Linked DNA regions of Homo sapiens. The protein of the gene in region 1 purifies or fractionates together with the protein of each later gene. This does not show direct contact. Each region holds a gene or a part of one and is shown in the gene's direction. Other genes may lie near its edges.

Region 1 (4,564 bases):
TGCCAGGCACTGTGCTAAGGGCTTCTCTAACACACATGGGGATGGGAGTCTTTAATGCAGCTCCTCTCCCGGGATCCTGGGGGTGGGTCCTCCCCCTCTAAGCCCTAGAGAGCCCTCCAGCCTCGTTCTCCACATGCCCGACCTGGAGTGGGTGGGAAGAGGGAGAGGGTGGTGTGCGAGGAGGCAGCAGGTCACAAAGGGGTTACAAGCTCAGAGGGAAGGGGGATGGGAACTGGAAGAAAGTGTCACCCAGACCAGGGGTAGAAGAACTTGACTTTGGGGAGACTGAGAAAGACCACATGTAAGAGAGAGAGACATGGAAAATGAGGTAGAAACAGACAGAAACAAAGAAAGGCACAAAAATTAAGAGGCAGAGGAAAGGTGAAAATAGCCAGGAGACAGAAACTGCAGGATGAGAGAAATGAATAGAGAGAGACAGAGAGACTAAGACAGCAAAAGGCAGGAAGGAAAAACAGAAAATGAGAAGGTGTGAGAGAGAGAGAGATGGAGAGGTGGAGAACAGAGAGACTGAAATGAGAAAGAGACCTCTCGGAGAGAGACCGAGAGGAAGAGGCTGGCAGAGGGAGAGGGTCAGAGACCAAAGACAGAGACAAAAAGAGAAATAGGGTTTTGCAAAGACTGACTGACAGAAACAGATTTCGAGGGGAGAGAGATCAAGACCAAGTGAGGGTTTGAAGGAGACTTAGGGGAGGTGGAGGAAGAGAAGGAGAGTCTTAGATCCAGGGTGAGGGGCTTCTAGCAGGAAGAGGGAAGACGCCAAGACCGCGCTTGGGAGGTCAGTGGTGCGTCTCTACCCCCCCTGCTCCCCCACTCCAACTCCCAGAGTCTCAAGGCCTCACGTCACACCCCCGTCCCGTCCCGTCGACAAGGGGAACCCCGGCCTGGGAGAGGGCGCCTCCGGGGATCCGTTGCCTAGTCCAGGTACTGCCCAGCTACCGGGCGTCGAGGATTGCGAAGCGTCGGGGCAGGCTGGCACGGTGCCCACTTTTCCCAAAACGCCAGCCTTCCAAGCCCAGAAGCTCGCCCGGCCCAGGCCGGGAGCGGCCCACGTCGGACGGCCGGACCGCCCTGCAGGACCCAGCCCGGCCGCCCGCCCCCGCCGCCGGCGGTGAGGGAGGTGAGCGGCGCCGACCTGCGGGACGAGCATCACTCCGACCCAGCCGGGGGTGAGGCGGGTCAGGATGCTCCGGTCGCAGGAGGAAAAGGAGGAGCTGGACCAAAAGCCCGAAGAGAAGAAAAGGGGAAGGCCGCGCACGGAGCGCGGTAAAGGCCGGCGGAGCTAGACGCCCCGAGGTCGGAGTGAAGCGCCGGGACCGAGCCCCGTCTCCCAGGGAGTCCGGGGCGCACGGCACCGAGGAGAGCGCGGGAGCCAACCTGGGCGCATCATGCGCAGGGCCCGGGACGCTGGGCCGGTCTACACCGCCGCCTGGGTCACGTGGCCCGGACGGGCCGGCGGCTGCCCCGGCCGGGGGGCGGGGGTCGCGCCGGGGTTGCGCTGGACGACGGAGAGCGGCGGGCCCGCAGCGGCCTGGAGCCTCCCAACCCGCGCGCCGCGCTGGCCCCCGAGCGTAGGAGCCGCCCCCTGCCCCCCCGCGCCGGCCCCGCGCCCGGCCGCCCGCCCCCTATATAGCGCGCCCCAGCAGGGCCCGCGCCAGGCCGCCAGCCTCGGAGTGGGCGCGGGACAGTGCGCGGCGCCCCGCAGCCAGGCCCCCGCCCCCGCCGCATCCACCTCCTCCGCCGCCTGCGACCCAACGGGCGCCCCCCGCCGCGGCAGCTGCCGCCGGGCCCCCGCGGCCACCATGAAGAAGGAGGTGTGCTCCGTGGCCTTCCTCAAGGCCGTGTTCGCAGAGTTCTTGGCCACCCTCATCTTCGTCTTCTTTGGCCTGGGCTCGGCCCTCAAGTGGCCGTCGGCGCTGCCTACCATCCTGCAGATCGCGCTGGCGTTTGGCCTGGCCATAGGCACGCTGGCCCAGGCCCTGGGACCCGTGAGCGGCGGCCACATCAACCCCGCCATCACCCTGGCCCTCTTGGTGGGCAACCAGATCTCGCTGCTCCGGGCTTTCTTCTACGTGGCGGCCCAGCTGGTGGGCGCCATTGCCGGGGCTGGCATCCTCTACGGTGTGGCACCGCTCAATGCCCGGGGCAATCTGGCCGTCAACGCGGTGAGTGCCCTGGGGGGGGGGTGGGAGCCTCGACCCTGGGGTGGGCTCAGGACCAGGCCTCTTACCCCACCTGGAAAAAAGGGGTGCCGCAGAGTGGGCCAGCCCACACCCTTCACCAGGAAGGCAAGAGCCTCCCAAGGCCAGGAAGGCAACTCTCCAGGCTGATATGTGCTCCCTTCCTGCCCACCTCCTCTCCCCCTCCCCTCATGCTGGCCCACCCTGGTCTCTCTCCAATGCCTGCTACCCCTCCTCTCCTGCCAGAAACTTCTGCCTCCTCCTGTCTCACCTTTGAGCTCCACCTTCCTCCTGGGCCCCTCACCTCTCCCATCACCTCAGTGGAGCGGTTGAGTAGAACCACCAGAGAAAAGCGGGCTGTCATCACGGCTTTGGGTGACCCTGGCCTGTCTGTGCTTCATTGTTCTCAGCGCCTCCATGGGGATGGTTGTGTCTGCCACAGCAGGTGTCAAGGGGCTCACATTTAGAAACCGTAGATAGGAACCCCCTAATGTGGGGCCAGTGCAGAGCAGTTTCTGTTGAGTATTGGTTCCCTCTTTCCCCAACCTGTGCTCCTCCCCTCAACCCCGCACCCCTGCCTCCCTCCCACCTCCTGCAGCCCCAGAGTCAGCCCCCAACCCCATGCAAACTGGGTTCATTAATCAAACACAGAGGAGGATTTGCTTGGCCATTGTCAAGCTGTGAGTCAGCCGCACTGGAGAGACGGGTTTAAGGCTGGCACTGGCATGGGGCCAGGCACGGGCAGGAGGCCGGGATGGGGTGTGAGGCAGGCAAACCGGGCAGCTGCCCACAGGATGGAGGGTAAATGCCAGCTTATGGGGGCTGGGGGTTGGGCAGAGCCATTGATAGGCCCGTGTCCAGGAAAAGCTACCCTGACGCTCTGCCCTTTGGCCACAGGCCTGAGCTTCAAGCCTGTGCAAACTATGAAATGTACAGTGTCTTTAACAAATGGCTTCGCTGGGGCGATGTCCACAGGACTTGGCTTCCAGGTGCCAAGGTGCTCTAAGTGTCCCTGGAGGCCAAAAGCCCTACTCCCCGAGCCCCTGGCTATACAGCCAGAAGGTGGCCGGGGTCCTAACCCGCTATCCCCTTGCAGCTCAACAACAACACAACGCAGGGCCAGGCCATGGTGGTGGAGCTGATTCTGACCTTCCAGCTGGCACTCTGCATCTTCGCCTCCACTGACTCCCGCCGCACCAGCCCTGTGGGCTCCCCAGCCCTGTCCATTGGCCTGTCTGTCACCCTGGGCCACCTTGTCGGAGTGAGCAGTACCGACATTGGGCTGGGGTGAGGGTGGGGCAGGCACTCAAGGCAAATAATGGAGCCCTGGAGCGGAGCCCACTTCAGATGGATGAGTCCAGCAGAGTTTAAGGCCTGGATTTAGGGCTCCTGGACTCTGGCCCTACTGGGCCCCAGAATTGATCCCCCCAAAACCTCTGGGCTGAGGAAAGATGGGAGTAAGTAGGAGGTGGGATGGGACAGGAATCAAACCCAACCTCAGAGCAGAGAAGAGAGGAGGGCGTAGTTAAGGGTCCATGGTTAACCAAGCAGCTGGGATCCTTGGAGGGAGAGGTTGCCAGCCTGAGTTTGAGACCTGGCTGAGCCCCTGGACTGCAGTGTAACCTTGAGAGAGTCCAGATTCTGTGGGAGTGGACCAGGATGTTGCCTTTCTCTCCACCGCCCTGTCTCTATCCAGATCTACTTCACTGGCTGCTCCATGAACCCAGCCCGCTCTTTTGGCCCTGCGGTGGTCATGAATCGGTTCAGCCCCGCTCACTGGGTGAGTCTGTCCCTTCCCCTGGCTCCCTGGAGATGAGGGCCTGGAGACCCAGCAGTGGCAGCTCAGAGCTCACCAGACCTGGATTCTGTGGGTCTAGAGCTTGGGGGTGGGCCACGGAGTGGTGGCTGACAGAGAAAGGGACACAGTAGGGGATGGGATTCAGCTAGAGGGGCAGAGGTGGCTTTGTATGGCCTGAACCGCTGGGGACAGGGAGTCTGAGTATCTATCCGCTTATGGAAGAGGCTCTACTGAACCTGGAGGTGCAGAGGGGCTCTGTGTCAATTCCCTTGAGGATTTGGTGTCCGTCCCCCTCGGTGTCTGCGTGCTGGTCCTCTCTGATGTTTTATTTATCTGTCCCTGTTGAGGGGGTTGGGAGAGTCTTCCTGTGGGTCTGTCCCTGTGGACAGTCTGTCTGCCCCCCCTTTGGAAGCTCATGGTCACTCTCTCCAGGGTCTGCTTCTATCCCTGCGTGGAGGGGACACGCGCTCTGTTCATCCGTCTCTCTGAGGACCCACGTGTCCCCTCTGAAGGTTTATTTGCTTCTCTTTCCGGTGTGGTTGGAGGGAGCCTGTCCCTCTGGGAATCT
Region 2 (3,802 bases), on another chromosome or scaffold:
CCTACGTGGACGGCCCTGTCTCGAATTGCTGGTCTCTGCAACCGCGCCGTCTTCAAGGCAGGACAGGAGAACATCTCCGTGTCTAAGGTAGGGGGTCAGGACACACACCAGGTATGTTTTGGGGGTGTCTCCAAAGCCTCTTGCTGGCCCCAGCTTTCCTTCTCACATGATGTGGCTGCCTTGGGGGTTTCAGTGCCGCCTTCACCTGATCCTCCACTCCCTTCCCTCCCATGCTGACACTGAATTCTTGTCTCTTCTGGCAGCGGGACACAGCTGGTGATGCCTCTGAGTCAGCTCTGCTCAAGTGCATTGAGCTCTCCTGTGGCTCAGTGAGGAAAATGAGAGACAGAAACCCCAAGGTGGCAGAGATTCCTTTCAACTCTACCAACAAGTACCAGGTCTGCTTGGGTTGCCAGGACAGAGGAAGAGAGAGGGATATAAATGGGTGAGGGTGGACAAAGCCAAGGGGAATCATCACTAGCAGGAGTGGGGGTGTCTGAGGGTCATGTTCCCTCCCCCTGCTAAGTCCCCCAGGACAGCTCATATGACTGCATGTCTGATTGCAACTAGCCCCAGCTCCCAAACCTTACTCCATCCCTTACTACAATCTGTCACTCTCTCAACTCTTCTTCCCATAGCTCCGCATCCTCTGGCCTAGCCTTCCAACTCTTCTACCCCAGTCAGTGAAACCATAATTCTGTAATTCCTTTATGGTGCCCCTTAGCCTTTAGGCACCTGTTAAATGCCAAGAATGCAATCTCAGCATTCCTTATTATCCATAGAGGTAAAGCCCCCTGAGGCCAGGTGGTGGTGGGGATGCTGAGGAGGGAGCCGTTCAGCCCCTAGCACAGTGCCTGTCTTAACCTGACCTCAATAAATATTTGTTGAATGAAAGACTGTCCTACGGAGGTGGCTCTCAGGTTACAAGTGTTGGAACTGTGAGGTCTAAACACCCCCCTGCACAAGGAGATTCTCTTTGTTGACAATCTTTGATGGGTTGGGGCTACTTTTCTAAGGTGGTTTCCTTACCAGCTGCTGCTCTATGCCGCGCTACCAAGACAAGTATGGCCCTCTCTGTAACTACCTGTTGTCTCTCCAGCTGTCTATCCACGAGCGAGAAGACAGCCCCCAGAGCCACGTGCTGGTGATGAAGGGGGCCCCAGAGCGCATTCTGGACCGGTGCTCCACCATCCTGGTGCAGGGCAAGGAGATCCCGCTCGACAAGGAGATGCAAGATGCCTTTCAAAATGCCTACATGGAGCTGGGGGGACTTGGGGAGCGTGTGCTGGGTGAGAGGCCAGAAACAGGAGGCTCAGAAGGGGATTCCCAAGCCTCTGCGGCATCCCTGGGGTGGGGGACTGTGGGGGCGTCCAGGAAGCCACTCTGCGGATCTCACTGATCCCTTCTGCCCCCCTTTAGGATTCTGTCAACTGAATCTGCCATCTGGAAAGTTTCCTCGGGGCTTCAAATTCGACACGGATGAGCTGAACTTTCCCACGGAGAAGCTTTGCTTTGTGGGGCTCATGTCTATGATTGACCCTCCCCGGGCTGCTGTGCCAGATGCTGTGGGCAAGTGCCGAAGCGCAGGCATCAAGGTACTGGCCTCCCATCCTCCCCTCCATTCTAGCCTCCCCCATGCCAGAGTTCAAGGAGCTGCAGTGGCTGCTGCCCTGGAAAGGCCCAGGCCACGGTGGCCTCCTTCCCACTGACTCAGAGAAGAAGCTGTCCATCTGCAAGGAAAGGCCCACCCCTGCCTTGGGGCACTCACCCTTATCCCTTTTGCTCAGAGAGGCCAGTGTCCCATGCCCCTCCTCTCCCTCCCTGGCACAGCTCTTTGTCCCATCTGCATGTGTACCCTTCCATTCTGATTTGAAGCATAATCTGGCACTCCTATCTTGAAGACCTAGTTGTCCTACCCTTCCCAACTACTGCCCACCCTCTCTGTCAACTTAGGATGGGATTAGCAGGCTCTTGTATGCTCCCAGTGGCTCAGCCCATAACCCCACAGAATGCCTCCCACTCAAGGTTCTCTTGTTCAACTACAATTGCTTCTCACTGACCACTCCCTCCTCTGTGCTATGTTTGTTCTTCATTCAACAAATATTTACTGTTTACTATGTTTCAGACACTGTGCAAGGTGCAAACTCTAGCACCTTGCACAGTGCCTGATACATAGTAAACAATTTGTGTCACATGACACATCTAGATGGGACAATGAGCTGTGCCAGGGAGGACACATATAAATCAGGCACTATTCTAAGCACTAAACCTCTATGATTTCATTTAATCTACGCAACAACCCTGTGAATAAGCACCAGTATTTTTCCTTTTTTACAAAGAGGGAAACTGAGGCACAAAGTAACATGCCAAGGCCACACAGCTAGTGTAAGTCATAGAGCAGGTACTTGAACCAAGGCAGTCTGCTATTTCTTAACTATCATACCAGGAGACTTGTTTCTGTGGGTGTATGTGGTTTCTGAACCCCATAACCACTCTGTCTCCGAGGCAGGCATCATTATCCCTGTTAAAAGTAAAACAAGGCTGGGCACAGTGGCTCATGCCTGTAATCCCAGCACTTTGGGGGGGTCCAAGGCTGGTGGATCACCTGAGATAAGGAGTCCAAGACCAGCCTGGCCAACATGGTGAAACCCCGTCTCTACTGAAAAAAAAATACAAAAATTAGCCACGTGTAGTGGCAGGTGCCTGTAATCCCAGCTCCTTGGGAGGCTGAGGCAGGAGAATCACTTGAACCCGGGAGGCAGAGGTTGCAGTGAGCCGAGATTAGGCCACTGCACTCCAGCCTAGGCGACAAGAGCAAGACTCCATCTCAAAAAAAAAAAAAAAGTAAAACAAATGGAAACTGCAAGTGGGTAAGTCTTTTCCCCAAAATAAAACCACCAGTAAGTGATGGACTGGGACTATGAAGCATGATCTGCTTGACCGGAAAGCCTGAGCTCCTGCTGCTTGGCCAGGTGCCTCTCTCTGTGATCAGAACCATCACGGAGGCCTGGGCAGAGGACCTCTATGGGAAGTCAGCTCAGGGAAGCATTAATTCTGCCTCAGAGAACTGGACGATGTTTGACAAAAGGAATGATATTTGAGCTGGGCTTTGGAGGTCAAAGAGTATTCTGCAAAGCAGTGAGGGAGAGGAAGGCATGTCAAGATCAGGGAACAGTGTGTACCCTGGCGTGGCTAGACTGTACGGAGCGTGTGTAGGGGTTGGCAGGGGAGAGGTGGCAAGGAGTACTGGGGGTTGAGACTGGAACACTGGGTCAGAGCCAGTTGGAAGGACTTGGCTTAAATGCCAGACTTGGGCTTTATCCTGCAGGCCACAGAGAGCCATCAGTGTCACGGGGGAGGTTGAGCTTTTAGGAGACTACCTGGTTTGAGGAGGGACTGGATTTGGGGAAGAACTGGAGTCAGGGAGAGACAGGTTAAGAGGCCATTGCCATAGTTCAGGCAAAGAATGATGACCTGAACTAGGGCAGAAACAAAGGGAATGGAGAGGAATAGCCATGTCTGAGAAATGTTTTGAGAACTTGGTGACCAAACTGGATATGGAAGGTGAGGAAGATACAGGAGAGAAGGGGACAGGATGAATAGAGAGGACAACATCTAAGGTAGGGAGCAGTAGCAGGCTTGGTGGGGTGGCAGGAGTAGAGAAAAGGAGTTCAATGTTGACCTTAAGCTTAAAGAGTCTATAAGATACCCCAGGAAAGACAGATGTTCCAGTGAACATTGGAGTATGGTTTAGAGCTCATGAAAGATGGTCAGGACTGGAGATTTGAATCTCATTAGCACA

What was found.
Region 2: the proteins of AQP5 (region 1) and ATP1A2 purify together in Homo sapiens (affinity purification with mass spectrometry; one large-scale study listed by BioGRID and IntAct). This does not show direct contact.

Annotation. Positions count from the first base shown.
Region 1 is NC_000012.12:49,960,198-49,964,761, forward strand, and holds the start of AQP5 (aquaporin-5), read left to right. Parts: upstream 1-1,674; 5' UTR 1,675-1,820; coding exon 1,821-2,183; intron 2,184-2,469; exon of another isoform or gene 2,470-2,727; intron 2,728-3,294; coding exon 3,295-3,459; intron 3,460-3,894; coding exon 3,895-3,978; intron 3,979-4,304; exon of another isoform or gene 4,305-4,428; coding exon of another isoform or gene 4,429-4,485; exon of another isoform or gene 4,486-4,564. UniProt on the Homo sapiens protein: Aquaporins form homotetrameric transmembrane channels, with each monomer independently mediating water transport across the plasma membrane along its osmotic gradient. Plays an important role in fluid secretion in salivary glands.
Region 2 is NC_000001.11:160,129,003-160,132,804, forward strand, and holds part of ATP1A2 (sodium/potassium-transporting ATPase subunit alpha-2 precursor), read left to right. Parts: coding exon 1-87; intron 88-263; coding exon 264-398; intron 399-1,099; coding exon 1,100-1,289; intron 1,290-1,419; coding exon 1,420-1,595; intron 1,596-3,802. UniProt on the Homo sapiens protein: This is the catalytic component of the active enzyme, which catalyzes the hydrolysis of ATP coupled with the exchange of sodium and potassium ions across the plasma membrane.